2 linked regions of the Homo sapiens genome follow. The protein of the gene in region 2 purifies or fractionates together with the protein of the main gene of each other region. This does not show direct contact. Each region holds a gene or a part of one and is shown on either strand. Other genes may lie near its edges.

Region 1 (4,253 bases), on a different chromosome or scaffold from region 2:
TTATACAATGTCAGCTTTCAATTCTAAGAAGGTATATAAAACCTAAAAGCAAGGTGTTCCCCAACCCCCCGCCACCAACCCCGCCCCAGGCTTTGGAAATTTGTGCCCCCATTGAAGAGTATTTTCACCTCTGAACTTTCAAGGACAACTCCTTTTGCCTCATTGAAACTGGCTTTCAAGCTTGGCAACCAAGATAAGAATATTAAGTACACTTATTTTAACACTCAAGGACACTTTCTGAATAAACCAGAATCTAGGGAGATATAAGTGAATAATTTGGACCTGCTCTCTTTGAATGTTTATAATCTGGTGGAAAAAAAATGGACATATGAATATTGATTTGTGACCAGTGCAAAGGGGGCAAAAATTCATATCCCAAAGAAAACGGGGACACATCAGGTCTGTCTTGTTCATCACTGTGTCCACAGGGCCTGACACCTAGTAGGCTCAGTGGGAGAAAGGAGCCCCAATTACCAACAAAAGCCAGGAAAGAACGGGAGGCTCTTACGGAAAAGGGTGATACTTAAACTGAGCAAGGAGGCACCTGGAAATAGTGCCACCTAATAATTTTTGGCGATCAGACTGACACACTAGAACGGTTCATAAGACCAGCCTTCTCCCATTGGCTAGCTTCCTTCCTCACCCTTCTCACCCTGGGCAAGCCGCTTCCTCTCTCTGGGCCTCTTGCTTTTCCTCTGTAACATAAAAGGGGTTGAGCAATATCATCTCTGAGAGCGCCATGTGTGTGCGTGCCAGAGGGAAAACCCCCACAACGCTAATACATCAAAACTGCAGGTTTGCACAAAAACTGAATTCTGCTGAATGCAAACAGGCAAACAGCATTTACCAGGAAACAAAACAAAATCAAGCACATAAAAAAGTAGGAAGAGTTGGAAAACGGAAGGAAGATAAGTTCTCAAACAGCTGGAATAGTTGATGTTAGCTAGCGAAGTTTTTCAGAGGAAAAAACAAGAAGTTGGTTATGAGGCAAGTGGACCTGAGAAAAAAGACTAAAGGGGAAGAATAGCAAGTAAAACAGAACTCCACTTGCTAGATCTCTCCCTCTGTCGCGCTCTTTCACCTGACCCACTCCCTTATTCCCCCCACACCCTTTCCTTCTCTCCCTACGTTACCGCACAGGAACGAAGTCTGGGTCATGTGCGGACCGCTTGTGGCTCTTAAATCCTCTTTTTGTCACCCTGGCCGTGCAAAATTTTGAAACGTCCCTCGGCAAAAAAAATAAAAATAAAAAAAAAAAATCTGTCCCTGGCCTCTTCCCTAGTTCTGGGTCCAGTTGCAGCCAAGTGAGGGGCAGCGCGCGCTCCCAAGTCCCCGTTTCAGAGACGCGCACGCGCCTGGCGCCCAACCCCCAATCCCCTGCTGCTCAGTGACCCCGCCCACGGGTTTCCGGGCCGGCGTAGCTATTTCAAGGCGCGCGCCTCGTGGTGGACTCACCGCTAGCCCGCAGCGCTCGGCTTCCTGGTAATTCTTCACCTCTTTTCTCAGCTCCCTGCAGCATGGGTGCTGGGCCCTCCTTGCTGCTCGCCGCCCTCCTGCTGCTTCTCTCCGGCGACGGCGCCGTGCGCTGCGACACACCTGCCAACTGCACCTATCTTGACCTGCTGGGCACCTGGGTCTTCCAGGTGGGCTCCAGCGGTTCCCAGCGCGATGTCAACTGCTCGGTTATGGGTAAGCCGCCGGCTCGGCAGTCCTCCGGGTCGTCCTTTCTGCCCTTGAGCCCCTAACGCAGCGCCACGCCAACTACCGCTTCCCCCCAGGCAGACGCTTGTGGGTGGCCAGAGCATCTTGACTGGATTCGGGGACCCTTGGGGACCTTCTTCCCCGCCAGGCTCGCGAAGTTAAAGTTCATCTGCTGAGAACTTCTAACTCCACACTTTCTTGGTTATCTTGGGGACTCAACACTTTGATCAAGAACTTTTTTATTCCTCCCGCTTAATTTTGTTTGCTTTGAGAGAGACTTGGGAACTGCAATCGTTTGGTTCTCCAGTCCGATCTGGTAGCGTTATTTTTAAAATTTATTTTTATTTTTTATTACTATTTTACTAGTGAAGATAGATGAGCTCAGAGACTCTCGAGGATATAGCATGAAGTTTTCTCTTTTTGTTAGATGGTGGGAAAGGGACTTTCTGCCCAGCGATTTTGGTTTGAGCGGGTGTTGATGAGTACTAGAAAACGGCTAGTACCACTCTGCATTGTTTCATGCATTGCAAGGAGGTAAAAATTTTTTAAAAAATTAATAACAAAGAAAACTTAACTCTGAACCTAGTAATTAGAAATGCCCAGAGTCTGCACAATGTTTGGCTCATGGAAGGCTCTCAATAAATACCTAGTGTTTGAACATACTGGAGATATTCCATATGCCTTCAGATAACATGGTTACCCCTAGAACAAAGAACCTAGTGAAGGGGGTGGGGTGGAAAAAAGACAATCACTAGTTAGAAGAGTCACACTGTGGTCTACCCAAACCCTCTTACAGCCTGTGACTTCTGCAGAGTCAGTAAAAAATCAGCTATAATTTTCTTGTCAACAGAACAAAGATTAAGTCATTTGTTACTAAAGAAATACCTTTTTAACTGACTGTATAGCATTTCATAATCCTGAACATTGTAACTTTTTTTTTTTTTTTTTTGAGAATGGAGTCTTGCTCTGTCACCCAGGCTGTAGTTCAGTGGCGGGATCTCGGCTCACTGCAACCTCCGCCTCCCGGGTTTAAGCGATTCTCCTGCCTCAGTCTCCCGAGTAGCTAGGATTACGGGCACATGCCACCACGCCCGGCTAATATTTTGTATTTTTAGTAGAGACGGGTTTCACTGTGTTAGCCAGGATGGTCTCCATCTCCTGACCTCGTGATCCGCCCGCCTCGGCCTCCCAAAGTACTGGGATTACAGGCGGGAGTCACCACGCCTGGCCTTTTTTTTTTTTTTTTTTTTAAATTTGAGTTTGAAGGTTGGGGCAGAAAGAGATCAGGATTTGCACTGCCCTGTCACATGCAATCTCCCATGTCAGAGCATTACTCTCAAACATGGAAAAACTTTAAAATACACAACTCTCCAGATGGACACAGCTGAATCATTTTCAGGAAGGCTCTGCCTATAAAATTACCTTTGGCCTTAATTCAGTAATTAAAGGCACCCACAGGTCTGAGCCCTCATCTATGAAGGTTAAACGTATCATTCCTATCAGCACTAATTGGTTTTATAGGATACAGACCTCTAGTTTGCTGAATAAACTTTGGAAGGATTCAGATTATGAGGTTCTAAACTGTAGAGCCTTTGAGGAGAAAGGTACCCCATTTCTTCTCCGAATAGATCATTTTGTGTCTTCTCCTGGGCTTAGCACATTGTCTTCCTTAGGATCTGATAGTCTGTTTATTTATCTTTTTGTTGTCATACCTTTTATTCTTGCATTTCCCACTTTTGACTAGCATTTTGCCTTTTCTCCGTTTCTGGAAGCCTGTAATTTTCAACATTCCCCATTTCTCCTTTTGTTCAGTGGAAAAATTTCTTCAGTGTTGGGATGCTCTGGAAAGGTACTGTAGTTTTGGGGGTCTCCCTGCCTGCTGGGCTGCATAGCATATCTCTCTTTTTTGAGACAAGGTCTCACTGTGTTGCCCAGGTTGGAATGCAGTTGTGCAATCATAGCTCACTGCAGCCTCCAACTCCTGGGCTCAAGCAATCCTTCCACCTCAGCTTCAGCCGCTCAAATAGCTGGGACTACAGGCAATGCACCACCATAACCAGCGAATTTTTAAAAATTATTTTTGTAGAGACAGGGTCTCACTATGTTGCCCAAACTAGTCTTGAAGTTCTGACCTCAGCCCCGCAAAGTGCTAGGATTACAGGCGTGAGCCACTGCTTCTGCTTGCATTATCTCAAATTTTTAGAGCCTAACTTCACAGTCTTGCCTCGGAGCAGGAACTGTTTGAGGCAACAAGATGGAGCCTCTGGTTTCTTCACTAGGCAGACTGTGCTCAAACTGGGTAGCATGAAAGGAAAGCAGCACAATTAAAATTGAAATTGGGGGATTCTTTCCCCTATTGAAATCCAAATAATTTTCCTTTATTGTGCTTTTTTTTTTTTTCTTTAGGACCACAAGAAAAAAAAGTAGTGGTGTACCTTCAGAAGCTGGATACAGCATATGATGACCTTGGCAATTCTGGCCATTTCACCATCATTTACAACCAAGGCTTTGAGATTGTGTTGAATGACTACAAGTGGTTTGCCTTTTTTAAG
Region 2 (3,500 bases):
TCATGCTCTCCACATTGGGATTGTCTTCCCCCCGGAAGAACTGGTTGTTCCGATCTGTCCGGACCACGTCTTTGTCCACAGTGAACTGCACATTACGCCAGAACGCTCTGTGCTCCTCGGGAGTCATGGAGAGCCTGTGTGGAGCCGAGCACCCAGCCGGGGTCAGCGGGTGGCACCCAGAGGCATCGTGTGGCGCACACACTGCAGGAAGCCACCCTTCCTCCCAACCCCCGTTCCCTGGACGGGAGCTGGGCGGCTGCTGCCGGCTGCAGACCCTCCCCGGATGCGGCGGATGGGTGGCGTGTATCCAAGGCTCTCCTTGATATTAACTCAGCCTCACAGTCTCCAGCGTCCCAGGAAGGAGAGCAAGTTGCAGCCCAGTGGGTAATGAGGCCTTGGCCCTGGCCCAGCGTTCTGGAGGGGAGCTGAGCACAGCCCAGGGGCTTCACCCAGTCCCAGCCTCCTGGAGAGAGAGCTGAGCCCAGTCCCGGGTTAGCAGATCCCAAGTGGGACACAGTCTCCGGATGCCTTCACCCCTCCAGGCCCTGCTCCCAGCCCCAGCCTTCAGCTGTGGGACGTCAGCGCCTAGTTAAGTCTGTTGAACGAGAATTCTAAAACCTTGACATGTGAGCTAACGAGCCCCGCAGCTCCGAGGCCCGAGTGCTTGGTTTAATGACTGCACTTATCCCACCCTATCACTCACGTTCCTGGGAGACCCATTTTTGAAAGAAACTATGGGTCACGAAACATATTATCAATGCTGAATTGCACCTCAAATTGCCTTTTCAAATGACATTTTCCTCCGCGGCTCGGCGGGGTGGGCCGGGCTGGCCCCGGCGGTTACCTTTTCTGCTGGATCTCAGAGTACTCCTTTCGCTTCTGCAGCCGCAGCGCCTCCCGCTCCTCCGACGTGGACTCGTGGCTGTAATAGCGCAGCAGGAAGGGCCAGACCTCCCCGCGGATTGACACATCAATACCGCCAAAGAAAATGGCCTGGAGGAAGCGGCAAAAGTTGGGGAGGGGATAAAATGGGGCAGCTCAAAGAACCCCCAAATCCCCAGAGATGTGTGTTTTGGTGGTTTTTGGTGCGCCTTGATTCAGATCTCTGCAATTTGCACATATTTACAAGGGGAAAGCAGTGGCCTTCAATTCCCATACAGGACACAAACCCGGCTCATTTCAATGTCAATGCCCCCCCTGGGGTGGCGCTCAGATTAACGTGTCGTTCTCACGTCATGGCCTAATCCCTGGTTTTGGAAATGCTGCATTTCACTGCAAACCCTTCTATGCAGGCTGACACGGTATCCCCCCAAACCCTCGAGGGAGGTGTTGTGTTTTGTTTTTTTTTTTCAACGCAGCAGCTTTGATTGCTTTATCGGTGTGTTCACAGAGAGCCTCACACAAGAAAACGGGGCCCTCACGAGGAGGTGGCCCGTGGGTGCGGGCGGGCGGCCAGGCCCCGGCCCTCCTTCCCTCTCGCTCGTTCCCGGTTCCCGGCCGGCTCTCCGCGGGGCCAGCTGGGCGGACCCGGACCTCACCTTCCGCAGCTTGTACTCCTCCTCCACCTGGCCCAGCTCATTCAGGTGGTTGAGCCAGGCGGAGACGCCGAGCCTCTTGTACATGCTCTCCTCGGGGTGCGTCTCGGAGGACGGCAGCTTGGGGCGGCGGATGGAGAACTGCATGCATGTCTTATCGGGGGCGACCTGCTGGACGGGAGGAAAACTGGGCAAAGGTCAGGATCTCAGCCGCGCGGCTTCAGAGGCCAGCAGTGCTTTTCCCAGGAATAAAAGCCTCTCTCTCTTCTGAAAGGAGGGCAAGGGCCGTCCCCTGCATACAAACCCCTAAATGGCGAGTGTAATTAGGCGCAATTAAAATGAAAATACCTTCATCTTAAAATCGGTTTCCCTCTGCGGCTCTCTCCTCCCCGGCCCACTGTGCCGCCGCCCCCCACTCTCTCCAACCCCAGCCGCAAAAACGGAATGAATGCCTCGTTCGGCCTAACTTCCCTCTGCCGGGAGGGCCTGCAATGAATTACATGTGATTGGCCACATACAAAGGGATCGCTGTTCTGCGAGCAGGGAGCCAGCCTGTCAGATTGCCTCCGCGAGCAGTCACGAATCCAGGGCAAAACTGCAGCTGACATTTAATTCAAAAATCAAAGGTTGTTCAATGTAGGGGGAAAAAAAGCCATGCTACTGTAATAAGGGAAGCCAGCAGGAGGCTCTGCGGGAAGGAAGGGAATTTTAAAATCGGCCCCATTTCTAATAAGCACATACAGTACCTTAAACAGATAATTAAAGAGCTCTTATTACATTTGTACGTAGATTGAGCAAAATATGGCAGGAAGTCTTGTCAAAACATGATTTTTCAAGTGCAGGGCACTGACTTTACCGAAAGCCCTGGGCAAAGGTTTCAAACCCAAAGTTGCTGCTCTGACGGCCAAAAACTACCGTGGGTCACACCCCGTAAGCCCCCGGGGCCCGGGGACCCCAGACACAGGACCCAGGAGGGAGATGGGGCCCGTGGGGGGTGGGGAGTGTCAACCGCTGGGCATTCTGGGGCCGTCTGCTGGGCTACCTGGTCTTTGAGCTGCATCTCGGTGCAGTATTTCCACTGCTGGAACACGTCAGACAGCTTGTCCAGGCCGCCGTGGTGGAAGTGGAAAACCTTGTACTGGCTCTCTCGGCTGGCAACGACCAGCTGGCCGCTGGTGCAGGCCTCGTCGCTGAAGGGCCATTGGAAGGGGGAGAGGGAAGCCCGATGAATATGTAAACACGGGGGTTTTATTTCCAAGTATAATCAGAGGCCACTGTCGCCAACCTCAGAAGCAGGAAACAGTGAGTCCCAGTGGAGTTGGCTGCTAGCGGGAGGGGACAGAACTACACCGAACAAAAACCACCACCCCCTTTGCCGAAGATGGCAAAACTGCTCCTTCCTGGGGGGCCCTGGAGCTCCTCTCTGGAGACCTGCCAGAGTGGCCTTCTCCCCACCACCCCCTGCCCGGCAACATGGTCCCTGCAGTCCGGGAGACCTGGGTCCCAACGCTGAGTGCCCTGGAATCCAGTTCTGAGCCCTGGCAGGCCATGTGCTAAGAGAACCTCCTGGGAACAGACCTCCTTCGTTGCGTGTGGGTGGAACTCTGGGAGAACCCTCCAGGGAAACTCAGTAAACATCCGTCAGTGCTGTCAGCCCAGCCCCGGCTGCCCTTAGATGAAAGGCTGGAATGTGGCTCTGGGTCTGGGAACCCCCCCAGCTTCTGGACACGCCGGCTTCTTCTAAGCCCGGGCCTCTCATTGGTGATGTCTGCGGCTGGGCAGCCCTGACTATAAGGAGGAGGATCTGGTGTGGGGAATGACTGCAGGAAACTAGGCATCGCCCACCCATCACGAAAGGAAGGGAGCCTCCATCCGGAAAGCTGCGGCCCGTCCCGCACAGGTGGCCGAGCTCCAGAGCATCCCCCGGCGATCAGAGCCGCCGGCAGCTGCTACCCTCTGCCCTGG

What was found. Proteins that work in one complex are often made in the same cells at the same time.
Region 1: the proteins of TBC1D16 (region 2) and CTSC purify together in Homo sapiens (affinity purification with mass spectrometry; one large-scale study listed by BioGRID and IntAct). This does not show direct contact.

Annotation. Positions count from the first base shown.
Region 1 is NC_000011.10:88,334,937-88,339,189, reverse strand, and holds the start of CTSC (dipeptidyl peptidase 1 isoform a preproprotein), read left to right. Parts: upstream 1-1,453; 5' UTR 1,454-1,517; coding exon 1,518-1,689; intron 1,690-4,107; coding exon 4,108-4,253. UniProt on the Homo sapiens protein: Thiol protease. Has dipeptidylpeptidase activity. Active against a broad range of dipeptide substrates composed of both polar and hydrophobic amino acids. Proline cannot occupy the P1 position and arginine cannot occupy the P2 position of the substrate.
Region 2 is NC_000017.11:79,948,873-79,952,372, forward strand, and holds part of TBC1D16 (TBC1 domain family member 16), read right to left. Parts: intron 2,726-3,500; coding exon 2,578-2,725; intron 1,982-2,577; exon of another isoform or gene 1,890-1,981; coding exon of another isoform or gene 1,884-1,889; intron 1,723-1,883; coding exon of another isoform or gene 1,707-1,722; coding exon 1,539-1,706; intron 994-1,538; coding exon 845-993; intron 135-844; coding exon 1-134. UniProt on the Homo sapiens protein: May act as a GTPase-activating protein for Rab family protein(s).